Linked DNA regions of Homo sapiens. The protein of the gene in region 1 interacts with the protein of each later gene in a pairwise test. Each region holds a gene or a part of one and is shown in the gene's direction. Other genes may lie near its edges. The genes, in order: SEC13, CFAP43, NUP42, CLDN12, SEC16B, ADGRF5 and RAB11A.

What was found.
Region 2: the proteins of SEC13 (region 1) and CFAP43 interact in a two-hybrid assay, tested with the Homo sapiens proteins (one large-scale study listed by BioGRID).
Region 3: the proteins of SEC13 (region 1) and NUP42 interact in a two-hybrid assay, tested with the Homo sapiens proteins (one study listed by IntAct).
Region 4: the proteins of SEC13 (region 1) and CLDN12 interact in a two-hybrid assay, tested with the Homo sapiens proteins (one large-scale study listed by BioGRID and IntAct).
Region 5: the proteins of SEC13 (region 1) and SEC16B interact in binary tests that used the Homo sapiens proteins (3 or more experiments, as listed by UniProt).
Region 6: the proteins of SEC13 (region 1) and ADGRF5 interact in binary tests that used the Homo sapiens proteins (3 or more experiments, as listed by UniProt).
Region 7: the proteins of SEC13 (region 1) and RAB11A interact in a two-hybrid assay, tested with the Homo sapiens proteins (one study listed by BioGRID).

What each region holds. Positions count from the first base shown.
Region 1 is NC_000003.12:10,304,113-10,307,612, reverse strand, and holds part of SEC13 (protein SEC13 homolog), read left to right. Parts: intron 1-1,920; coding exon 1,921-2,054; intron 2,055-2,456; coding exon 2,457-2,580; intron 2,581-3,440; coding exon 3,441-3,500. UniProt on the Homo sapiens protein: Functions as a component of the nuclear pore complex (NPC) and the COPII coat. At the endoplasmic reticulum, SEC13 is involved in the biogenesis of COPII-coated vesicles.
Region 2 is NC_000010.11:104,229,565-104,233,732, reverse strand, and holds the start of CFAP43 (cilia- and flagella-associated protein 43), read left to right. Parts: upstream 1-1,368; 5' UTR 1,369-1,486; coding exon 1,487-1,551; intron 1,552-2,889; coding exon 2,890-3,143; intron 3,144-4,168.
Region 3 is NC_000007.14:23,185,048-23,188,547, forward strand, and holds part of NUP42 (nucleoporin NUP42), read left to right. Parts: intron 1-22; coding exon 23-251; exon of another isoform or gene 252-255; intron 256-2,004; coding exon 2,005-2,099; intron 2,100-3,500.
Region 4 is NC_000007.14:90,402,055-90,406,260, forward strand, and holds the start of CLDN12 (claudin-12), read left to right. Parts: upstream 1-1,406; 5' UTR 1,407-1,495; intron 1,496-3,464; 5' UTR 3,465-3,554; exon of another isoform or gene 3,555-3,558; intron 3,559-4,206.
Region 5 is NC_000001.11:177,935,559-177,939,058, reverse strand, and holds part of SEC16B (protein transport protein Sec16B), read left to right. Parts: intron 1-1,545; coding exon 1,546-1,845; intron 1,846-2,693; coding exon 2,694-2,761; intron 2,762-3,500. Other genes in the region: CRYZL2P-SEC16B (protein transport protein Sec16B), read left to right, coding at 1,546-1,845, 2,694-2,761. UniProt on the Homo sapiens protein: Plays a role in the organization of the endoplasmic reticulum exit sites (ERES), also known as transitional endoplasmic reticulum (tER). Required for secretory cargo traffic from the endoplasmic reticulum to the Golgi apparatus.
Region 6 is NC_000006.12:46,855,939-46,859,438, reverse strand, and holds part of ADGRF5 (adhesion G protein-coupled receptor F5 precursor), read left to right. Parts: coding exon 1-1,310; intron 1,311-2,530; coding exon 2,531-2,572; intron 2,573-2,661; coding exon 2,662-2,721; intron 2,722-3,380; coding exon 3,381-3,465; intron 3,466-3,500. UniProt on the Homo sapiens protein: Adhesion G protein-coupled receptor. In alveolar type II (ATII or AT2) cells, required for normal lung surfactant homeostasis.
Region 7 is NC_000015.10:65,886,491-65,889,489, forward strand, and holds part of RAB11A (ras-related protein Rab-11A), read left to right. Parts: intron 1-1,210; coding exon 1,211-1,350; 3' UTR 1,351-2,999. UniProt on the Homo sapiens protein: The small GTPases Rab are key regulators of intracellular membrane trafficking, from the formation of transport vesicles to their fusion with membranes.

The sequences.
Region 1 (3,500 bases):
GTTTTATGAAGGGGAGTTCACCTGCACAGGCTCTCTCTCCCTTTTTGCTGCCATCCATGTGAGATGTCACTTGCTCCTCCCTTGCCTTCTGCCATGATTGTGAGGCCTCCCCAGCTACATGGAGCTGTAAGTCCATTAAACCTCTCTTTTTTTTGTAAACTGCCCAGTCTCAGGTATGTCTTTATCAGCAGCGTGAAAATGGACTAACACACCCCGACGCTACTAAAAATACAAAAATTAGCCAGGCGTGGTGGCACACACCTGCAGTCCCAGCTACACGGGAGGCTGAGGCAGGAGAATCACTTGAACCTGGGAGGTGGAGGTTGCAGTGAGTCAAAATCGCGCCTCTGCACTCCATCCTGGGCAACAGAGCCAGACTCTGTCTCAAAAAAAAAAAAAAGGCAGTGGCTCACACCTATAATCCCAGTACTTTGGGAGTCTGAGGTGGGAGGATCACTTGAGCCTACGAAGTTTGAGGCTGCAGTGAACCATGATCTTACCAGCCTGCACTCTAGCCTGGGTGACAGTGAGACCCTGTCTCAATTTTTAAAAAAAAAAATTGTTAATAATAAATAAAGAGGAGAATCAGTCATCTTTGGAAAGTGATAGAACCAGTTCAGAAAGAATCAAGCGTTTATCCAGCCTTTCCTTTTTGACCTTGTATTAGTCTGTTTTCTCGCTGCTGGCAAAGACATACCCAAGACTGAGCAATTTACAAAGGAAAGAGGATGGAGAACTCACAGTTCCACGTAGCTGGGGAAACCTCACAGTCATGGCAGAAGGCAAGGAGGAACAAGTCACAGCTTACGTGGATGGCAGCAGGCAAAAGAGAGAGCTTGTGCAGAAAAACTCCCATTTTTAAAATCGTCAGATCTAGCGAGACTTATTCACTATCATGAGAACAGCATGGGAAAGACTTGCCCCTGTGATACAATTACCTCCTACCAGGTCCCTCCCACAACACGTGGGAATTCAAGATGAGATTTGAGTAGGGACACAGCCAAACCATATCAGACCTCTATCCCTGGGTAACTGAATAGTTAATGAGAAGAAGTGTCCCTATCTGGAGCATTCCATGGAATAAATGACAAAGAAAGGATGGAATTAGAGTATCACCATTTTACAAGCCCCAGTGAATTAAGAGAGGCCTGAGTTATTGACAGCTGTTAATATAAGAGACAATCTAACGTGCCTCCTGATGAGAGAACGCACCAGCTCTAGTCTTGCCAAAGGGATCACACCTGAGTCTGTCCAGTCTTGGCTCCAGCTGACAGTTTTCAGGAATTCAGAGGAACATATTGAACTGCATATGAAGCAGCAAAACCCAGACCGAGAGACTAGGCTCTCTTCAGCAGAAAAATTGTAAGGAAAAAAATCAGAGGAGGAATCTGCAAAGTAGGAGATGTAAAAAACATCCAAAAAAATGTTTAATGGACAAGACTAAACTATAGTATCTAGGGGTGCACATTTGGGTGATAAAATGGGGGGAAAATGGGTTAGAAGTTAGGGCAGTGGTTACTTATAGTGGAAGAGGGAGCTGTGATTAGGAAGGGCATAATGACAGGGCTTTTCAGGCAGGTGGCAGAATTCTTGTTTCTTGATCTATTACTTTATAATAAAAGATTTTTCTTAAAAAAAAGCTCCAATGTACCATTCTTTCATGTGTTTAGAAAATGTCCTGTTTCTTAAACTTGTGGGAGTTCTTAATTTCTACTTTTAGCGCACACTGCAGAAAAATGCACACACTGTTGGGATCCTTGAGGGAGAATTCTGAGCAGTGGACCCCATGATGAGTGCTTCATGTCAGCCTTCACACACACTCCAGTCCTGAGAAGCGGAGGGGAGAGGGACAGCAGGCTTGGGTCTGCAGAAGCAGTGTTCTCTTGCAAGGCAGAGTCACCATGTGTCCCATCTTTACAGATTGGCTGCAATGCCGTCAGCTGGGCCCCTGCTGTTGTACCTGGAAGCCTCATAGACCACCCATCGGGGCAGAAACCCAATTACATCAAGAGGTTTGCATCAGGTGGCTGTGACAACCTCATCAAGCTGTGGAAGTAAGTAGGGATGTGTGGCCTTCTCTTTGAGGGGACACTTCTACCCTTTACCCTACTCACCATGACTCAGCCACACTCACAAGAAACAAGGTCACCTTTCTTTCTCCCTCCTGCCAGTAAAATACTGTTTTCAATCTGTTGGAGGACATCCTTGAAAAACAACACAACACCTGTTCACCTAATTCCCAACTGTTGGAGCTGACTCTTTGGCTGTGGAAGCAGAGCATTTTCTGGAGGGTTTTTTTTACAGCTGGGGTGAAGGGAATAAAATGCCACAAACTCCATGAATGAAAGAAGAAAGATGGAATCGCTTCTCCACCCCAGGCAGAGCCTGTTGGGTTGGGGAGGAGTTGAGGTGTGGGAACGGCCCCCTGCTGATTCTCTTTCTGTCCCCACTGTTAGGGAGGAGGAGGACGGCCAGTGGAAGGAGGAGCAGAAGCTAGAAGCGCACAGTGACTGGGTTCGAGATGTGGCCTGGGCCCCCTCCATCGGCCTGCCCACCAGCACCATCGCCAGCTGCTCCCAGGTCAGCCCAGGGCCATGAGTATCCCTTGTCATTTAGTCTCGAGTCAGGCCCATCAGCTCTTAGTCTCCTTAGCAGAAAGTCCTCTGGGAAGGTAAAGGGAGAGCAACAGGCACCTTTGGCCCAGAGCACAGGGAGTCAGGTCATTGTGTGGGGAAGTCTTGGTCAGAAGCCACAAGTGGCCTGCCTCCACTGAGATGAGACAGCTACAACAGAACCGGCACCAAGAAGGAGGCGGATTCGGGATGAATTTTCCCTTCTGACCCATGTGAGACTAGGGCGCCGAGGTGCCCAGGTGCAGTTCCAAGTGTTCCCAAGCAACGATGGGGTTGGATGGGAATTATACGCTTAGCTACCAAGCCACCCTTCCCAGACAGCAAGGACGGCCAAGGGTGAGCCTTCAGTTATACACCACCACCCTAGAGGGAGCCAGCTAGGCCTTTCACATCATGGGAACCTGTTTGGTTTGGTTCTAAACTTGGGATTTTTGTGCTTTTTTACTTGTGCCTTCTCATTCTTGGAGCTTGGTTTTTGGAGAGCTCTGCCCATTCAGTTGAGAAGGTATAGACGGCCAGTGGAAGTGACTTGGCAGGCATGAGGAAAACCCCAGAGAAAATCTGAGTTAGCAATGCAGACAGAGTCCACCTCCGAAACCCGGATGAGAAAAGGAATCCGGGAGACTCTTAACCAGTGTGAAGAGACAGAAACAAAGCTGTGGACGCCCCAGAGGTCCTCGGCTCCCCTTTGAATCCCCCACCCTGTTCCTGCAGAGAGGTGCCGGGTGGCTCTAGACTGGGAGGACATCACATCACAAACGCAGGAGTCTTGACTCCACCTCCTGACTCTATCCTGTTTCTTCCTAGGATGGTCGTGTGTTCATTTGGACCTGTGATGATGCCTCAAGCAATACGTGGTCCCCTAAA
Region 2 (4,168 bases), on another chromosome or scaffold:
TGTAAATATTTGTGAAAGAAATGGAGAGAAGAAAGCAAGACAGGAAGGAAAGACCTAAAGAAAGGAAGGGAAGGGTAGAGAAGGGAAGACGACTGAAGGGAAAGGAAGAAGGGTAAGGGAGGGAGTCTAAGGGAAGGTATGGGAGAGAAGAAGGAATGACAAGCTGCCGACCATTCAATCAGGTTACTTCCAGAGCTGTCTGCTTCCCTGAGGAAGCAAGAGGGTACATTTCAAAGTGTTATATGGTACTTAAGGGCTTGGAGCTCTAAATTAGCTAGACCTGCGTTTAAGTCCCACTCAGGGCTGGGCAAGGTGGCTCACGCCTGTAATCGCAGCACTCTGGGAGGCCAAGGCGGGCGAATCACTTGAGGTCAAGAATTTGAAACCAGCCTGGTCATCATGGTGAAAACCCGTCTCTACTAAAAATACAAAAAATTAGCTGGGCATGGTAGCACGTGCCTGTAATCTCAGCTACTTGGGAGGCTGAGGCAGGAGAATCGCTTGAACCCAGGAGATGGAGGTTGCAGTGAGCCAAGATCAAGCCACTGCCCTCCAGCCTGGGCAACGGAGTGAGACCCTATCTCAAAAATAAATAAATAAATAATATAAATAAATAAAGTCCCACTCAACTTTGTAGCCATGGACAAATTATGTGCTTCTCTTTTCCTCACGTTACTTATCTGTAAAATGGGGCTGATGGGAGATGTGAAGACGTTGCAACAATGTTTGGCACAGTCAGCACTCTAAATGAAAGTCTGTTTAGAAATTTATTGATTTTTAAAAATAATTATTTATTTAGAGACAGGTCTCGCTCTGTCGCCCAGGCTGGAGTGCTGTGGCGTCATCCCAGCTCACCGCAGCCTTGAACTCCTGGGCTCAAGCGATCCTCCCACTTCAGTCTCCCAAGTAGCTGGGACTACAGGCGTGCACCACCATGCCCGGCTGCTTTTTAAATTTTTTTGTAGAGATGCGGCACGGGCGCGGCAGGTTTCGCTATGTCTTCCAGGCTGGTCTTCAACTCCTAGCCTCAAGCGATCCTCCCGCTCTGACCTTCGAAAGCGCGGAGATTGTAGGCATGAGTCTTACTTGCAATTATTGGCCCGGACCTGGGGAAATTTGTTAAAATGCAGATTCTGATTGAGTAGATCTGGTGTGGGAGCCAAGTTTCTGCATTTATAACAAGCTTCCCAGGTAGCACCAATGTTGCTGGTAAACAGACCACACTTTGAACAGCAAGGGGCCCGCCCCTCGCTTGGCTTGCCGCTCACCCATTGGCCGAGAGCGGCAGACCTTCCACCAATCTGCTCGGCTCAGAAGGGAGCGGGCCAAAGCGCAGAGCCAATGGGCGCGGGGCTTACGGTCTCCGGGATACGGGTGTACACAGCAGCGGCGTCGCGGCCCGCAGCCCCGCGGCGGCGGAAAGGTAACCGACCCGCCCTGGGGTGCTGCGTGCGCTGCCTGCTCCCGCCTGAGGAAAACACTGCCCATGGCGCAAGGCCGGGAGCGCGACGAAGGCCCCCACTCCGCCGGCGGCGCGTCCTTGTCCGTGAGGTGCGGTGTTCACGGCCCCGCGACCGATCTGGGTCTCGCGGAACCTCCTGCCCCAAGTCCCCTCCTCCCTCCTCTCCCTCCGGTTCCTTAGGGCGGCTTTCCCCGCAGCTTCGACCTCTTCCCCTCTGCCCCCAGTGCCTTCCCTCAGCCTCCCTCCCCGTGTGACCTCCCCTGTCCGCTCCCCATCCCCTTGTTCCTTGACCCCGTCCCCAGTTGTCTTTCCCACTCCTTATTCTGCGACCCTGACCCTCCGTCTCTTACCCAGCAACGTCCCCTGCACCCTTCATCTCTTCCTTCTAGCTCAGGATTCCCGCTAGTGATCCGGGTCTTCTGATCACATCCCCCTCCCCCTCCACCTGGCGACAGCCCGGATCCCGTCCTTGCTACCTTTGGTGATTTTCCCCAAAGTTAGGTCCCTGAATCCTTTCCTTCTAACTCCTATCCACTAGCTTTGGATTTATTTGCATTTATAGTAGCCTTTGAAAAGCATCAAGCACTGCGCAGATATAGGTGGCATTTTTTCCCCTACATTCTAGAGTGTTCCTCCCAGCCCCCACCTCCACTCTATACAGCATCCCCTGCTAGTCCTGGACACTCTAATGTCTCGAGGTTTCTCACCAAACCAGTGTCCTTCACTTGCCTTTTCCACCATCTTCAAGCATACCTTTAATATTTAAATAAAAATAGAATCTCCTTCATCTCCTCTCCTTTCTAGCATACACCTAGCACGCACTCCTTACTTGAGAGTATGTTCTTTTTGTGTGCTAGCCTTTCATTCACGTCGACTTCATTCCTTTTATTTTCTACGTTTATCTGTATTTTTAAATCTAAAATATGGCCACATACTCTTCATCTGTGTAAATAAGCAATTTTCCTACTCTGCTAACAACCACAAAGCAGGCTGTCCTATGCAAAGTTGTTTTTTAAAGTTTATTTAAAAAAATCAAACTAATTATAAAAGAATGGCCCAGGATGCCACTGTGTTGAGATCAAGCTCTTTTCTCTGTTATTTTCACTTTTTGTCTTCCAAGTATAGAAGACCCCAGAAGTCCTTCTGAGACTTTCTCAGGTTTGGTCAGAGAGTTTCCTTTGCTGAAAAAGTTATCTGAAGAAGGCCTGGGAGACCTACGGAACTTTAGGTCTACATTTAAATTTCTATAATTCATTGACTCAAATGGATCTCACAGCCAGCATGTGTGTTCTTTTATCTTAGAAATTGGGGGCAGAAAGGACATGAAAATAGAAATGTTTCAAAGATTTTGATGACCCTTTGCTTTGTTAAAAAAAAAAAAGTATTTGAAATGTATTATATTGATGTTGACATATCTTTTCCCAAAGATGGGTGCAAGGATTCCCTAAGCAGAATGTTCATTTTGTCAACGACAACACCATTTGCTACCCTTGTGGGAATTATGTAATATTTATTAATATTGAAACCAAGAAAAAGACTGTACTGCAGTGTAGTAATGGAATTGTGGGCGTCATGGCAACTAACATCCCCTGTGAAGTTGTGGCTTTTTCTGACCGGAAGCTAAAACCTCTCATCTACGTATACAGCTTTCCAGGATTGACCAGAAGGACCAAATTGAAAGGTATTCTAGAGAACCCTTCCTCTGCCCATAATTGAAGGATTTTGTTTAAAGAGTTGACTAAATCTATTATAAGTGAAGATTTATTTTTTGAAAGGTTTTTTTTGTTTGTTTTTTGTGTTTGTTTTGAGATGGAGTTTTGCCCTGTTGCCTAGGCTGGAGTGCAGTGGTGCGATCTTGGCTCACTGCAATCTCTGCCTCCCAGGTTCAAGTGATTCTCCTGCCTCAGCCTCCTGAGTAGCTGGGATTACAGGTGCGCACCACCACGCCCAGCTAATTTTTGTATTTTTAGTAGAGATGGGGTTTCACCATGTTGGTCAGGCTGTTCTCCAACTCCTGACCTAGTGATCCGCCTGCCTCACCCTCCCAAAGTGCTGAGATTACAGGCATGAGCCACCACGCCTGGCCCCATTTTTTTTTTTAATATACATTTTTAAAGAAGGAATCAAGCTGATCACTGAGGATTTAAATTATGTTAGCTAGAGCCTTGCTGTTCAAAGTGTGGTCTGTTTACCAGCAACATTGGTGCTACCTGGGAAGCTTGTTATAAATGCAGAAACTTGGCTCCCACATCAGAGCTACTCAATCAGAATCTGCATTTTAACAAAATTCCCAGGTGATTCATATGCACATTAAACTTTGAGAAGCACTGGGCTAGAAGACTATTGCCTTTTTCAGAGCAATGACTTTTTTTTCTTTCCTAATATTTGTTGAAAATCCAGGTGAATTGATGTTTGTATAGCTTCTAAAGTCAAGTCTCTGAGCCTCAATTTCCTCATTCATGAAATAGGGATAAAGATGGTGTCTAATGTGAAGGCTGCGGTGATGATGATAGATGAAAATATATAATATGCTGTATGTGTATGTATGCCAAGTGCTCAATGTTGCCTACCATTTGAATTATTAGTGTTTATTTTATTTATTTTATTTTAACAGAGTCTGGCTCTATCACCCAGGCTGGAGTGCAGTGGCATGATCTTGGCTCACTGCAGCCTCCACCTCCTGGGTTCAAGTGATTCTCCTGCCTT
Region 3 (3,500 bases), on another chromosome or scaffold:
TTTGTTTTATTGTTTATTTTAGGTAATAATAGACGTGGATGGAATACAACTAGCCAGAGATATTCCAATGTCATCCAGCCATCCAGTTTCTCCAAATCCACACCATGGGGGGGCAGCAGAGATCAAGAAAAGCCATATTTCAGTTCTTTTGATTCTGGAGCTTCAACTAACAGGAAGGAAGGCTTTGGATTGTCTGAGAACCCATTTGCTTCACTTAGTCCTGATGAGCAGAAAGATGAAAAGAAACTTCTGTAAGTGAAAGTTTTCAGGAAAATTACTATCCATTTGCTTATGTTTTTTCACCTACAATCTTTGTTGTTTCTCTTTTTTTGTAACATCTTTTCACAATACAATATTTTCTTTAAAAAAAGAAATAATGCATTATTTTTAAATCAGAGTAGCAAAAAGAAGAAAAATCACCCACAATTCTATCACTCATAGATAGCCACTCTTTTGCTGTGTATTACCCTAGATTTTATTTCACTTAAAAATATATCATCTTTCTATAATAGTAGAGTGCCTTCCTAGGGGTAATTACGCTTTTTCCACTTTGTGTTGATAACACTATATTGTGAATATCTTTCTAAGATTAGTCCTGCTTAAGTTCATTCTAACTTACAAGTCCTTTACAAAGTATGATGTAATTTAGAACAACTTGTGAACTTGGAGGTCATTTTACCATCTCATTTATTTATTTATTTATTTATTTTGAGACGGAGTCTTGCTCTGTTGCCCAGGCTAGAGTGCAGTGGTACAATCTCGGCTCGCTGCAGCCTCCGCCTTCTGGGCTCAAGCCATTCTTCTGCCTCAGCCTCCCAAGTAGCTGGGATTACAGGCTCCTGCCACCAAGCCAGCTAATTTTTTGTGTTTTTAGTAGAGATAGGGTTTTACCATGTTGGCCAGGCTGGTCTTGAACTCTTGACCTCAAGTGATCTGCCTGCCTCAGCCTCCCAAAGTGCTGGGATTATAGGCATAAGCCACCATACCCAGCCACATATCTTATTTCTTTCTAAAACTTTTACTTGGATTATCCTATTCAAACTGATCTCATTTGATTTCCTACATTTATTATGGAGTAGATACATGACATTTCTTGAGAATATTTATGGTAAAATTTATGGCTGGTGTCAAAACAATGCTTGGCTATCTGTAATGTTCTCTCAACTCATGGTGACTAGGATGGAATTTAAATGTAATTGGTTAGTCTTTTACTTATCCTAATTAAATCAGAACCAGTTGTAGACATGTTGAGTCATATACCATATACAACCGATTTTTTTTTAAGTAAATGAGCAAACAAAACCTTCCTTTCTGCATTTGTTGCAATTCTAAATTTAATACAGTTTTCTCTGTGATAATTCTCCTTTTATTGACATAGTCTAAGTAGGGAGAAACTTTAATTTAGAGCCGAATCTACCCACGGCATTACCACAGATTAGTTGTATGGATGTGGGTCTGTTTCCCCTGTTGCAAAATGTGAGAATTAGATAAAATGATCTCTGAAGTCCTATAACCCACTTTTAAAATATTATGATTCTGTATCACGTAAGTGGTACTTTGTTCTTCCCAGTTAAATGATTATTGATGTTTGTGATAATTAACAAAGATTAAAGTTAGTATTTTAGATTTTAATTCCTAAAAAAAGTATGGTATCTATGATAGTATTTATGTAATTACTATCATAACCAATGTTACATATCATACCAATGATACCATATGATATGGTTACATATCATAACCAATGTTATGTATTAACATTGGTTAATGGGTCAGTGTATTGGAAAGCCAAACTCATTAACTTCTCTGACATTATAATACTATTTGTAACCATGAAATATAGTTCACACTTCTATAAACTTGTGCTTTAAAGAACACTCTTCAGAAAATATAATGGAAAAGTATTTACTAGAATTTAAATTTTCAGTTGTGGAAAACCATTAACAATAAATTTTACCAAGCAGCTAAGAAGATCCTTTACTCTTTTTTTTTTTTTCTTTTTTGCAGGGAAGGAATTGTAAAAGATATGGAGGTTTGGGAATCATCAGGGCAGTGGATGTTTTCTGTTTATTCACCAGTGAAAAAGAAACCTAATATTTCAGGTAACTGAAAAATTGTGCATTTTTAAAGTATGTTCTAAAACTATTATTTTCTAAAACCAAAAGAATGCCAAATAAAGAAATCAACTACCAACTTAGCTACAACTAGGAGAGTTTGGGCATTGTTTAAAGTATTCGAGTATTCTAGCCAAACTTCATAATTTAGAGATTAAGGTTGGAGAATATAGTCTTTTAAGACATATAGTTCTTGGGAGAAAACATTTAAATAAAGCCCAGGAAGAGACTCTACGTTCTTGATTCCCTGTATGTACAACTTTGGAACCTCTTAGCTTCCTGTTGTGAATAGAAGAGTCATCCTGCCTGTCATTAAGGCCTTGGCTGCCTGGTTCTGTTCTTTCTTCCCTGTCTTTCCTTCTAAGAATAGTTGTGTTGAGACCTGTTCTGGAGATAATGTTTAAATGTGAGGAGGCTTAGCTGGGCTACAGGGATAGCAACTTTTTTTTTTTTTTTTTTTTTTTTGAGACGGAGTTTCACTCTTGTCCTCCAGGCTGGAGTGCAGTGACGCGATCTCGGCTCACTGTGACCTCTGCCTCCCAGGTTCAAGTGATTCTCCTGCCTCAGCCTCCCGAGTAGCTGGGATTACAGTTGCCCGCTACCACACCTGGCTAATTTTTGTATTTTTCTAGAGACGGGGTTTTACCATGTTGGCCAGTCTAGTCTAGAACTCCTGACCTCAGGTGATCCGCCCGCCACAGGCTCCTAAAGTGCTGGGATTATAGGCGTGAGCCACCACACCTGGCCTGGAATAGCATTTGCTTTAGAATATTCTCTGTCTCTCTCTCTCTCTCTGGCCTGGAATAGCATTTGCTTTAGAATATTCTCTCTCTCTTTTTTTATTTTTTATTTTTATTTTTTTTTTTGTCCATAGTCCCTAAGCCCTTTCTGGGCTGAAACCTAGACCACCGGGCTTTCCCAAGCCCACTCTGGGTGTTCCTGGGCCTCCGTCCTTTTGAGGAAACAGTGGGTACCTTGCAAATGGGAGCTCTTGCAATCAATATCGCAGAACCTTGGGATCTTTCCTCTGTCTCAGTTCTAGTTGCTCATTTTCTGTGAGCATTTGCATTACAACGCTTCTTATTTATTCACTTGTCCATTTAACAAATATTTACTGAATTTCTTTTGTGCTAAGTGCTAGGAATATAGTGATGAGCAAGACAGACAAGATCCCTTCCTTATGAATCTTACATTCTTGAGGGAGGAAAACAATAAGTGATGCAAATAAACTAAGATAATTTCAGATAATGATATTTTCTATAAAGAAACCACAAAGTATTAAGCCCTTAATCAGCTTAAGTATTAGTACTTGAGTATTAATCCATTCCAAATTGAACCTAATGCCTGTTGCCCTAAAGCAGTGGTTCTTAAAATGTGGATTCCTGAATA
Region 4 (4,206 bases), on another chromosome or scaffold:
TCCATCTGCTATTGCCAGAGCTGGCCTGGAGCCCAGAAATCTTTTCACCACCCAATGCTATCTTTCTTCCTCATTATTACATTTCCCAGTCTGGCTTTGGGATCGGATTGCTTCTGGCCTTAGATAACCTTATCCATCCTCTAAAGCAGTATCACACATAAGAAGGAGGTAGCAGTGGACTGATAGTAGCCTCTCTACCCTCCCTTTTTAAAAAGTCTCTGACAAATAGTCTCATTGTTACTAGAGCAACGCAAAATGGAAAATGCTAATAGCAAACATATAGTCCTTATTATGCGTCAGATACTGTTGTAACTGTCTCTGTAGTAATTCATTTAATCCTCATCACAATTTTCTGATGTAGATATACTGTTACAGATGAGACCTTGAGGCACAAAGGGGTTACCTTACTTGCCAAGGTTATACTTACTTGGGATGGGTGCCATCCTTTTGTATAAACTATGATACTTTTTCTTCTTTTTATTTTGAAAAATTTCTAAGATACAGAGAATTTGAAAGAATAGTACAAGAGACACCCACAAACATATTCTTCATGAATCCAACAATTATACACTTTGCCACACTTTATATCCATTTGTGTGTGTGTATGTGTGTGTGTATGTGTGATCATTTCGAAGTAGTAGGCATCACAACACTTCAGCATCCTTTATTTTTTAAAAAATCAGATCATTGCTATTTAGGACTTTGGAATCTTTTAGTTTAATTCAGATATTCATTCACTAATGCAGGACTTCACATTGGAGAGAAGCCAACAGAGAAAGGGACAGGACAGTAGAAATTGTGTGGGAGAGTAAAATTAGTTCAAATATCTAATAGCTAGCTATACTGTACTTTAGCTATATTAGGTCCCTCAGTTTTCAAGACAACAGTATGATGTGGGTGATCTTATCCCCATTTTTCCAGATAACCTCCAGATGTAGAGATAACTTTCCCAGGGCCACCCAATCAATACACAGCAAAGCCCCATACAAATCTGGGCTGTTTGGTTCTAGACTTTGAGCTCTTTTTCTACTTTTTGCCTAGATAAACACTTTGAGGGGAAAAAAAATCCAGATTTAAGAATTTTTGCTAACCTTCCTACGGGCAAGTCACCTTCAAGTCACCTGGGTACTTAGGTATCCAACTCAAAACTACTTTTAGTTTTGTTTCGTTTTGCCTTTTTTTTTTCTTTAACCGATAACCCAATTCTAGACGGAACATAAGGTGCAAGAGAAATCCGGGGAGGTGGAGGCAGAGAAAGGGAAGGGCAGGAGGTGGTCGCAGGATGTTGCCTGCGGCTGGCGGCCCAGTGGATTCTGGGAATTGTAGTCCCAGCCATCCAGGGCATTGCCGTTCAGGGCCACGGGAAAACCTGACTGCGCTCCCAGAAGCCTCCGGTGTACCTCGCTGGGAACGCACTTCCTGGGACGCTGAGAGGGAGACGCTCCAAGAGGCTCCTCAGTGTGGGCGAGTAAAATGCCCTGCGTGTGAGAAGCAGGTAGGTGTGGTCAAGATGTTCCGATTTCTGGGTCTTTTGCATAAGTAACTGAGGATTTTATGTAAAATGGCTAAATCCAGGAGAATCAGGAGCGTTGGAAAACGCTGACCACATCTGTGGATGTGAAAATTGAGTAGGTATTTGGTAAGGCTTTAAAAAATTATTTTGTACACAGGAGTATGGAAATGTCGAGGTGTGTTGCCGGAGCCGCCAAGGACTGGGAGCTTTGCTGGCGCGGGTTTGTGGGGGAGCCCAAGCTGCTATTTTTGAATAACCAGCTGATGCTGGTTGCGTAATGATGACCTGCTTGCGGTTCAAACCCACTCAGTGTTGCAGGGATGGGCTAGCTCTGAGAGCGTTAACAGTCACTGTTGCGGTCTCTCTCCATTGGCTCTAACTAGTAGGGCGTTTTCTTCCTTCTGCCAGGTCTGGGTCTACCACACACAGGGCTCTTCGAAAAGAGGGAGGAGGAGAGGAGGCGGAGGGGGGAGGAGGGGGGCGGAGGGGGATGCGGATTGCTCTGGAAGCTTGGTTTGCTTTCCTGTAAGTTCTGTGCACCCGGCCTTGTAAGGGGCCCATAGCCACGTTAGGGAAAGGTCAGACTTGGTGACCTCACTTAAAATGATTGCTCAAGGATTCTATTGTGCGTTATTAATTGTAAAACGATTTCCTCTGACTTTGGAGTGTGCAATTATGATTGATACCAACCCAAGAAACACATTTGGGGCGGGGGAGGGGTTGGGGGGGACTTGACTGAAATCTCCGAGCAGCCAGTTGCAGAGAGCATTCTACATAATGATCGTAATAGGGCTAGTGATGAACGCCTCAATCCAGGAAACTCTCAGGCGCACATAATAATGAGTTTCCATTCTCATCCTACCTGTTTGAGATAAATGGTATTTGAAGAGGAAGTGGCTAATGTTTAAAGTAGATATATAGAAGCATCTTTAAGTATCAGGTTGAGCCATTGGTGGAACTATTTTTTTTTTAAGCATTCTGGTTGCAAATTTCAGGATGCAGAATTCAGATCAACTTTGTCTGGTCTTGTTGTCAGTGTCCTTTTTTAAAAATGTAAAAGAAAATTTCTTTTACTTCCAAGACAACTGCACAGTCTTTCACCACCTTCCTTATCCTTTCACCGTAGTCATGAAAATGATCTAAAACATTCATTAAATATCAATCATATATTCCCAAGACAGCAAAGTGTTTTTCATCCTCATTTCTCCTATATTCTCAAGTCACAAGATGAGTTAATTTTTTTCTTCTATTTCTACGTATTTTTCTATATTCTATATATTTCTCATATATAATGCATGAATTAAGGAATAAACAGCCTTTTTATTTTTTTTTTTTTATTATTTGAGACAGATCATTGCTATGTCATCCAGGCTGGAGTGCAGTGGCATGATCATGACTCACTGTGTCCTCAAACTCCTGGGCTCAAGTGATCCTTCCATGTCAGCCTCCCAAGAAACTGGGACAACACGTGTGCACCATCACACCTGGCTAATTATTATTATTATTATTTTTTGAGCCAGAATCTCTCTCTGTCACCAACACTGGAGTGCAGTGGTGCAATCTCAGCTCACGGTAACCTCCACCTCCCAGGTTCAAGCGGTTCTTGTGCCTTAACCTCCCACATGGCTGGGACTATAGGCATGAGCCACCATGCCCAGCTAATTTTTGTATTTTTAGGAGAGATGGGGTTTTGCCATGTTGGCCAGGCTGGTCTTGAACTCGGGCTCAAGTGATCATCCCGCCTCAGCTTCCCAAAGTGTTGGGATTACAGGTGTAAGCCACTGTGCCCCTGCTAAACTGCCTTTTTAAAAAACTTACTGTCTGCCCTTTTTAGTATAACATTTCATTGGTTTTAGGTGATTACTAATCATTTCTTCTAATCCATGGGAATTCAAGCAGGGTTTTTAGAGAAGTACTATGTTAATTTGGAGTATTTTTCCTATTTCTTTAGGCTCAGATTATTGCTACTCTGTATTCAGATCTTCATGTGTCTCTTCTAAGCTGAATAAAGCTGTTTTGGAACTGTCAGGTACCTCAAAGCGTAAGTACGTCCTTTAATTATATCTTATTTCCCTCCCTCCTGCTACCACATCTGCCAACAATGACTCTTTTTTTTTCTCTTGTTCAACAAAATAGAGGTATAGGACAGACCTCTCTTGTGAGTACAATGACTGATGACTTACAGTTTCTAAGAAAACCCAAATTATAGGTAGAAGGAACTCTCAATGTTACCATCAAGAATTAAGTTAGGGCTGGGCATGGTGGCTCAGCCCTGTAACCCTAGCGCTTTGAGAGGCTGAGGTGGAAGGATCCCTTGAGCCCAGGAGTTTGAGACCATCCTGGGCAACATAGCGAGATCCTGACTGTATGAGAAAATTTTAAAAAATTAGCCAGTTGTGGTGGTACATGCCTATAGTCCCAGCTACTCTGGAAGCTGAGGTGGGAGGATTGCTTGAGCCTCGGAGGTCGAGGCTGCAGTGAGCCATGATTGCACCACTGTGCTCCAGCCTGGGTGAGAAAGCGAGACCCTGTCTCAAAAAAATAGAAGCTAGCTGCTATTAGACATATGTACTCTCGTAACTCTTGTAACTATAACTCAGAATTGTGCCTGGAAAAAATAGTACAGGGTCTATTGGATACATGACTTCCTAAAGCTCTTAGCCACTGTTCCTGCTCCAGCCTTCTTTAAATTC
Region 5 (3,500 bases), on another chromosome or scaffold:
TCACTGTGTAGCAGGATCTGTAAAGGTGGGGGGTGGAGGAGAGCCCGGCTGGGTGCCTGTGGATTGTGCTTCCCCACAGCCCTGCCTCCTGATGCCTTGGTGCCCAGTGGAGCAGGCGGGTTGGCCACCCATGCCAGTCCTGTGACCAATCTTGTTATAGGTCCACACCTTAGTTTATGTTACCAGTCAGGTCTTTTCCAGGGCAAATGTACTCTGATTCCTTAAGAACAGAGCCATGATTTCTGTGGTCTGATTTGGGTTTTTAGCTGGAAGCTTTCTAAGTTTTAAATACCCATGTCCATCAGGAAGTCCTTAAAGAAGAAATAATTTATCAAAAAATAAAAAGGTGTGGAGTTAGATAGGATGGTAATTTCAGCCCTCCCAACCCACTGGCTAGAGGCTCAGGGATCATACAAGGCAGTGTTAACTTAAAAAAAAAGTCATACAATGTGTACATTTGGAAAGGAGACTTTATTTCTTACAAAGGGTTCCATCCTGCAAGGTGGCCATCCCGCAGGCTGGGAAGTATAGCCAGGCACTTTGAGGGAAGGAGAGGTAAGACAAGAATTTAAGTTGAATGGGTTGATCAAACATACATATTTAACAGGTTATAGGAGGAGCTGTGACTGTTCACAAAGGAGGTCCTCACACATGGATAATGAACTAATGTGCGTGTAACACATGACCCATGTTCACCTTGGGGTGGAGACTTATCCTTTAAGTGTATTACAGTTAGGCCCTATGCGTCAAAAGATCTTTTCGGGACACAGAAGCACTGAAGTGGGGAGCCTCTGTAAACTGGCCAGACCCAGTTCATGGTTGGTGGTCTTCTTATCTGGAGAAAGTTACTGATATCAGTCTTGTCCAATCAAAGCTGTGGTCATGGCTGATGGAACGGAGGCTCATTTAGTCAGCATTTGTGAATGGAATGAGTTGTAATTGTTCTAACATTGCTCATCTTGAGGCCAGTGCTTGTTGAGCTGCCAGAGAAAAAAAACCTTGTGGCCGTGAGAACGCAGTTTTTTCTTAAGGTGTAGGGGTGCGGGACTTAACCATTGCCTGGCAGGGCTTTAGGTTCTGTGTATAGTTTGGTATCTTATGGCCACCAAGAGTCTTTTCTGTTAGTCTTAAGATCTCTGTTTTAACATTAATGCTGGTCAGTTGTGTCTAAACTGCAAAAGAGAGGGGGTATAATGAGGGGTGTCTCACCTCCCATCCTGTCATGGCTGGGAACTCAGTTTTTAAGGTTTTTCTGGGGTCCCCTTGGCCAAAAGGGAGTCTGTTAAGTCAATGGAGGAGCTTAGGATTTTATTTTTAGGGTACACTAGTGAAGAAAAAAACAAACAAACAAAATTCTGTAAACAGCAATGAGGATGTTACAATCACTGTGTTTTACTTGTCATCATGTTACTGGAAGCCGCATTAGACAGCTCGTCCTTGTGACTGCTTTCCAAAGAAGACATAAGCAGGAATGTTTCTGGTGTGATCAGTATGCAAATGCCGCATTTCAGGTCTGACTTCTTTACCTTTGTTCCACGTCCTTAGAAAACACTTTCTACCAGGACTTTTCTGGATGTCAAGGCTACTCTGAAGCCCCTGGGTACCGCTCAGCTCTGTGGCTGACACCTGAGCAGACCTGCCTGCTCCAGCCCAGCCCACAGCAGCCCTTTCCCCTCCAGCCGGGCTCCTACCCAGCAGGAGGGGGTGCAGGGCAGACAGGGACACCGAGGCCTTTTTACTCAGTTCCTGAGACCCATCTACCAGGGACTGGCAGCAGCGTGGCAGTGACAGAGGCCACTGGAGGAACAGTCTGGGAGGAAATGCTGCAGACACACCTGGGCCCTGGTAAGACCTGGCCGCTAGGGTGGCCACATTGAATGTAGGGTCTGGGTGGGGAGGAAGCAGGAAAGGGAGGTGGTGGGACCAGTCAGAGGAGGTAGGGTTGGAGCTGGGAAAGACACAGATGCGTGGATGTGTGCCCGTTACGGAGGGCCTGCTAGTTTTCAGCCACTGTATTGGTGCTTTGCATACATCTGAAGGAGATTGCTATCTTCCAGCCCAGTCCATCTCTCCACTGGGTACAGCAGGGCAAATGGAGCCACTCCTGCCATCCAAATGATTACATAGTTTCTAGGAGAGAGATTACAGGGTGGAAAAATATAGGCCAAGTTCTCTTTCTCCAATCATCCTGCACTCAAGAGCTTACTATCAGGCTCTCCAGCAGAAACCCATGTTTCTGTCTTGGTCCCGAGTTTCTTCAGGCCCATCAGACCTTCGACAACAAGGGCTGAGTATGGGTAAGCAATGCTGAGTGATGCCAGGGAGATGGTGGAAGCCATCTAGAATGATTAGCTCTTAGACCTTCCAGGATTAGGTCCTGTCCAAGATGGAGGCTCAGATGGAGAGGAGTGGTGGAGGATCCCTGTGACCTAGCTTGATGTTGCTCTGATTTCCAAGATTCCTGAAGAGTGGCTTTGGAAGTAGAGGATGAGTTGAACAGCATGTCCTGGGGTGGCTGGGATTGAGATGAGCTACGTGAGCATTCTTTGTATTTGCTGTGATTGGCTTGGGCTTATGGGCTCCGAGCTTCTGCTGCAGTTAAGAAAGCTGATTGTGTCCCAGTTACCCTTCTTCAGGATAGATGGGAAAAGCACAACTTCCAATTGCTATTTCCATTTCTGTTTGTGATGCAGGAGAGAACACAGTGTCTCAAGAAACTTCCCAGCCTCCTGATGGCCAAGAGGTCATTTCCAAACCACAGGTGAGAGCGCACAGCATAAAAGATGCCACTGCCCACTCAAATGCTTCTGGTTTTTACCAGTTGCCTTGGTTTCCCAGCCACATGCAAGCTCCTCCTCAGTGTTGCAGCAGCTTTCTCTTCCACATCTCGCCTTGCCTTTTCCTATTCCAACTCCTGGGAGCTGGGCGGGAGGCTGTGTTCTTGTTTACGCTCAGCCCCACAAACCTGTGTCCATGGGGAGAGAGGGAGCAACTGAGCTGATTCGTTTTGGCCTCTCAGATCTCTGTTACCTCTGACATCTTCTCAGTGCTGCACAAAACGCTTGCCCTACCCTGTCCTGCCATGGAAGACTGTTGATATTTCCTTGTTTTAATTTTTACCTGGCTTTATTTCAAAGAAAGATCTGTGGTAGCTGTGACAGTGCCTGCCTGTCTTTTCTCCTCAGTTAGGCTGTAAGGTCCTCATGTCTGGTGAATCATTCCATCTAGCTCTGATTGGACACACCCCTGCCCTCAGCAATGGGCAGTGTTGGTCCCAAACCTGAGGCGTTCTTCAGCTTCTCCTGGTTGGAGGGTTACATCCTATAACTTTTTAAAGTAGAAAAACAGGGGTACAGGTCTTAACAAACTTTAATGTTTTTCCGTTTTTTTTTTTTTCCTGACTGAAGTGGTACATTATTGTTATAGAAAAATCTAATAGTGAAGTATCATATAAAGAATCAAATATCATTCAATCCAACAGTCAGAATATTTTTCTTTTC
Region 6 (3,500 bases), on another chromosome or scaffold:
GTTCACAGCTACTACATTCAGTGGAAAGATTTTCCCAAGCATTACAGTCGGGAGATAGCCCTCCTTTGTCCTTCTCCCAAACTAATGTGCAGATGAGCAGCATGGTAATCAAGTCCAGCCACCCAGAAACCTATCAACAGAGGTTTGTTTTCCCATACTTTGACCTCTGGGGCAATGTGGTCATTGACAAGAGCTATCTAGAAAACTTGCAGTCGGATTCGTCTATTGTCACCATGGCTTTCCCAACTCTCCAAGCCATCCTTGCCCAGGATATCCAGGAAAATAACTTTGCAGAGAGCTTAGTGATGACAACCACTGTCAGCCACAATACAACTATGCCATTCAGGATTTCAATGACTTTTAAGAACAATAGCCCTTCAGGCGGCGAAACGAAGTGTGTCTTCTGGAACTTCAGGCTTGCCAACAACACAGGGGGGTGGGACAGCAGTGGGTGCTATGTAGAAGAAGGTGATGGGGACAATGTCACCTGTATCTGTGACCACCTAACATCATTCTCCATCCTCATGTCCCCTGACTCCCCAGATCCTAGTTCTCTCCTGGGAATACTCCTGGATATTATTTCTTATGTTGGGGTGGGCTTTTCCATCTTGAGCTTGGCAGCCTGTCTAGTTGTGGAAGCTGTGGTGTGGAAATCGGTGACCAAGAACCGGACTTCTTATATGCGCCACACCTGCATAGTGAATATCGCTGCCTCCCTTCTGGTCGCCAACACCTGGTTCATTGTGGTCGCTGCCATCCAGGACAATCGCTACATACTCTGCAAGACAGCCTGTGTGGCTGCCACCTTCTTCATCCACTTCTTCTACCTCAGCGTCTTCTTCTGGATGCTGACACTGGGCCTCATGCTGTTCTATCGCCTGGTTTTCATTCTGCATGAAACAAGCAGGTCCACTCAGAAAGCCATTGCCTTCTGTCTTGGCTATGGCTGCCCACTTGCCATCTCGGTCATCACGCTGGGAGCCACCCAGCCCCGGGAAGTCTATACGAGGAAGAATGTCTGTTGGCTCAACTGGGAGGACACCAAGGCCCTGCTGGCTTTCGCCATCCCAGCACTGATCATTGTGGTGGTGAACATAACCATCACTATTGTGGTCATCACCAAGATCCTGAGGCCTTCCATTGGAGACAAGCCATGCAAGCAGGAGAAGAGCAGCCTGTTTCAGATCAGCAAGAGCATTGGGGTCCTCACACCACTCTTGGGCCTCACTTGGGGTTTTGGTCTCACCACTGTGTTCCCAGGGACCAACCTTGTGTTCCATATCATATTTGCCATCCTCAATGTCTTCCAGGTGAGTTTTACAGTGCGGAGCTTTCAGGAAGATTTTATTCCTGTAGGACAAATTAATGATAGAAACACAAACAAGAGTAGGAATGGGGAAGGATTTCAGCCCAGAGGAAGCCTCAGCTCTAAAGAGCAGTAATAATGAGAACTCAATCAGATGGAAAGGACACATTCTTCTGATCCTATGGCACCTCATGCTTTTTATCACCTACATTATAATTTAGTGTCATTTGCCAGTCTCTGCTAAATACACTGATTACACTAGTAAAAGGAAAATCCCCATTTGTCTAAGATTATCTTGATGTAGTCTATTATCTCCTAAATGAAAATCCTGTCTTTGTGAGGACAGGGATTGCCCCTTTCTTGTTCATCACTATACCTCTATGCCTGATAGAGACCTTGGTACAGAGTAGGTTCTCAATAATCATTTGAATGAAATAAATCCTATGTACCACATAGCAGCTTCTCTGGAAACATCAAAAATCAGAGAATGAATGTCCTGTGAATGCCAGACAATCTGCTTGATTATACTACAATGAAAAAACATCTTCTTCGCTCTCCTGCAGCACATAACTAACTACAGTGCAGGCCAGTTTGTTAGAAGAACTATAACAGAGGTATAGATAGCAAGCCTTTAAAGTACAAGGAAGGAAGTGATTAATTCTGTTTCACCCAATGGAGAGGTGGTAAGGATAGAAAAAAACTTGCCCAAGGATTGAGGCCACTGTAAACTTGTGAAGAGGCAGAGGCTGGAGGCACACTCGAGATACTGCTTTCAGGATGCTTGTGCCAAGAACATATGAACCTTGATTTCTGCTACTGGGCCTGTGTCTCCAAGCTATGTAGTTCATATGTAATGACCTTCATGATATGCCTCATTTGGAAGGAACTAGTTATCCCACCCCATAGCCCAGATTCTTATCACAGCTATGTAAAGAATATTGTAGACACAAGAGGTGTATTAATAGCATAACCAACAGGACCTCCAGTTTTCAACTAAAGGAAAATTGGAAAATAGAAAATATCTTCCTAACATCATAACATTTAGAGTCCCTTGGTGTGGACCAAATGCCTGTCTTTGAACAGTATCATGTACTGGACTCATTCCATAAACTCAGAAGGAAAAAGAAGTAGTACAAATTTAACACCAGGTTAACAGTACTTCCTCCTTTGCTGGACAATAGACTATAATTAAAATGCACTTCTTTTCAATCTTTTTTTTCTCAGGGATTATTCATTTTACTCTTTGGATGCCTCTGGGATCTGAAGGTAAGAGCAATGACAGTTTCATGTTTCTAGAAAAGTCTGAAGTGCTTGTGGCATGTTGAAGTTACGATAGCTTCTTTTTAACAATGCAGGTACAGGAAGCTTTGCTGAATAAGTTTTCATTGTCGAGATGGTCTTCACAGCACTCAAAGGTAAACTTTTTCTCTGCAGAGACTTTTCATTTTATAACATCATGTATTCCACTAGCATTCTGAAGTACAGAGTACTAAATTTTTTCTTTGGGATTTTGATCAATTAGGCTAAATATATTGCATCCTCAAACCTGTCTCCCTCAACAGCTGTATTTGGCATAGATCATTCCATTGTTTTTGCTTCTCAAGTCATTCTGTCTATTAAATAGAGCCATAGAGCTGTCATTGAGATGCTACTCCACATATTTAAATAGGTTTTAAAATAATATATGATATAAACTTAAGGTTGAAATCAAACGTTCAATGAGAAGCAATCTTCTGGGGGGATTCAAGGCATTAGAGAAAACAAGTTGAAGAATAATAATGGATAGAATTTTCTGTAGTTCATTTTGGAACACAACTATTGCCCTTGGATATATCTGACTGCCTTTCACATGTCAGAAAATGCTAGAAGCCTAACAAACAATAAAACTTGTATTTGACAGTTATTTTTCTAATACAGATGATAAGATTCCAGTATTTTAATGTGACCTCTGGGAGTGGGACTAGAGATTCCGGCAGTGACCACTAGAGGGTGGAAAATCAATCCTTCTAGAGATGGAAACAGCTTTGGTCCCACAAATTTGCTTTGTGATTGTCCCTTTTTTTCTCTCTTCTAGTCAACATCCCTGGGTTCATCCACACCTGTGTTTTCTATGAGTTCTCCAATATCAAGGAGATTTAACAATTTGTTTGGTAAAACAGGTGAGTAGTGGCCTCCAGTTTCTCCCTGCTTGTCC
Region 7 (2,999 bases), on another chromosome or scaffold:
AGGCTAATTGTGTTAATTTGACACATTTTTAGAATTATCTTGCTTTTTGAGAGTAGTGTTTTTGGAGGGACAACTGGGAGAGTAAACAAAAATAAGGTACATTCTCTGTTCTTAAGGACTTTATAATCTAGTCACAGGGAACAACTTTTAGGCAGTGCAGTATAAGACCAAACGTGTTACATACAGATACTTATTGTGGAGGAATTTAGTGACATTCATGCGGTTATTTATTTATCACAACACATGTTATATGTTGCAGTACAGCAGTAAGACAGACACAGTTTTGATCCTTACAGAGTTTAACACTTAGTAAAAGAGGCAGACACTAAATTATTTTTGATAAGTGTCATGAAATAAAAATAGAGTTTACATATAACATCTTAAGTTGCCTATTTTGTATCATTCTTTAATTACAATTTAAGTTTTGTTCAGGAGGTCACTGATAAACACATTATCTTTTTTTCCCTTCCAAGAATCGTTTGGGATTTTAGCATGTTTGTTAAGATGTACTCTGCCGAATGCGTCTGATAGTGCAAATTTATTTATTTTTTGTGTGGTACAATGTCATTGTGTGTAGGCAATTTTTGTTTGTTTGTTTGTTTTTTGGGGTAAAGGTAGACTGAAAATACTCTTATGGTTTACTTTGAATCTAAGTCCATAAACAATGTAATGCTATTGGCTTACCTCTTTTTTTTTTTTTTGAGACCGAGTCTTGCTCTGTTGTCTAGGCTGGAGTGCAGTGGCACGATCTCATCTCACGACAACCTCCGCCTCCCGGGTTCAAGTGATTCTCCTGCCTCAGCCTCCCGAGTAGCTGGGATTACAGGCACCCACCATCATGCTTGGCTAATTTTTGTATTTTTGTAGAGACAGGGTTTCACCATGTTGGTCAGGCTGGTCTTGAACTCCTGACCTCAGGTGATCTGCCTGGCCTGGTTTACCTCTTTAAACAAAGATTTATTTGACTGGTGAACCTTTCCCTCTGACATGGAAAAACCTTTGTTTCTTTTCTTACCCAAAGGGCAATTGTTAAAATAAAGGGTTGAATCTAATCAGTGGCTGTTTGAAAATAAAACTTTAAATTTATGTATTCTCTGTTCAGTTTCCTTAGGGACTTTGATGCAAATATATCTCCTACCTTTATGTATCTTTTATCCTAACTATGATAGGTTTATTCACACTAAGTATTGTGGTTTCTTTTTTCCTTCAGAGATTTACCGCATTGTTTCTCAGAAGCAAATGTCAGACAGACGCGAAAATGACATGTCTCCAAGCAACAATGTGGTTCCTATTCATGTTCCACCAACCACTGAAAACAAGCCAAAGGTGCAGTGCTGTCAGAACATCTAAGGCATTTCTCTTCTCCCCTAGAAGGCTGTGTATAGTCCATTTCCCAGGTCTGAGATTTAAATATATTTGTAATTCTTGTGTCACTTTTGTGTTTTATTACTTCATACTTATGAATTTTTCCATGTCCTAAGTCTTTTGATTTTAGCTTTATAAAATCATCCACTTGTCCCGAATGACTGCAGCTTTTTTTCATGCTATGGCTTCACTAGCCTTAGTTTAATAAACTGAATGTTTGGATTCCTCAGTTATTGTTTACTTTTCATCATGGAAGCCTGTCACTGTATGTAGGACATAATAGAACTTGATCACTTGAAGCTCAGACCTATTGGTCTTGATCAAATCAAACTAAGAAGACCTTAGAAATAAGCTACCATTTTGCCACAGAGCAGCTTATAGGTAATACACTCTTCTCTCAGTGCAGTGTACATTTCCACAAATCTAAGAATTGCCCTATAAACATAGCAGGATTTTGAGAGCTTGAAAATTTTCCATTATTCTGGACATGAATTTCTAAAATGCCTTAATAGGTTTATGTAGTTGAGTAAATTTTGTTTTTTAATTTTTGTAAGCATCAAAGTTGATTAGAGAGGGGGGCACTTTTTCTGGAGAATTCTCTTAGTAAACACAAAAGATTGTTACGGTTTCATTAGTAGTATGGTTGTGGGGCCATAAGTTAAACAGTGCTGCCTGGTAGGCTGGGAACTGAAGAGACTTGTGGTATTCCATCTCGGGTGCCTCTGTTGGCAATGATCAGGCAGCCCAAAAGATTTAAATGATCTATAATAATTTCCAAGCGGTAGATTATGTGGCATTTTATTGCTCAGGCAATAATTGGTTTAATGCTGGTAGTGTCAAATTTTGAAGTGTTAATTTTGTCTTAGAACCTTCCAGTAAGTGAAATACAACCTAGTTTTATCACCATATCCACCAGCAGGCATGGATAATTATTTTAACAATGCTAATATTTGAGTTTTGCAGTATATTATAGAATATAGTCCAGTTAAATCTTTGGTTTCAGTATGTCTGAAGAGTACAGTGAGAGGTTAATTTCTGCTCAAGTGGTACCACTTAAAGGCATGTATTCTTTTAGTATGTAAAATGAAATAGTACCTTGAGTTTAAATAGAATGCATTTAGGCATTGTAGAGATCTGAAATAGTTTTCTTCCACTACATTGTTGAAATCAATGAAGCAATTAGTTTCTCATTCAGAAATGTGCACACTAATATTTAGTTTTGCTTTCTCGTGGATAATATTAAGCACTTACTCTGCAGTTTCCTGGAAGTTGTGTCAACTGCAGTGATACTATTCAGGATGGTGGGAAATCCCCAAAAATATGTATGTGTGGGCTTGCTTAGATTACTATATTTCATAGTTAATCTTTTGTCTCTTGCGGTGCTCATGATGTGTGGGGCACACGGAAGGCATTGCTGTAGTCAGTCATTTTGGTTTTCTTCTATAGCCATTTTATTATTTTAGTGTATTAGTTATGAAGATAATATTATCTATTTGTAAATTGCTACTTTGTATTTTATGCATGCTCTGTAATTTGATTTTTTTTTAGTTATTGATTTGGATTATATTCACATTCTAATAAACAGTTATAGGGGGATTATTTCTTATGCTGTCAGATTACATTTTTCCTTTGAG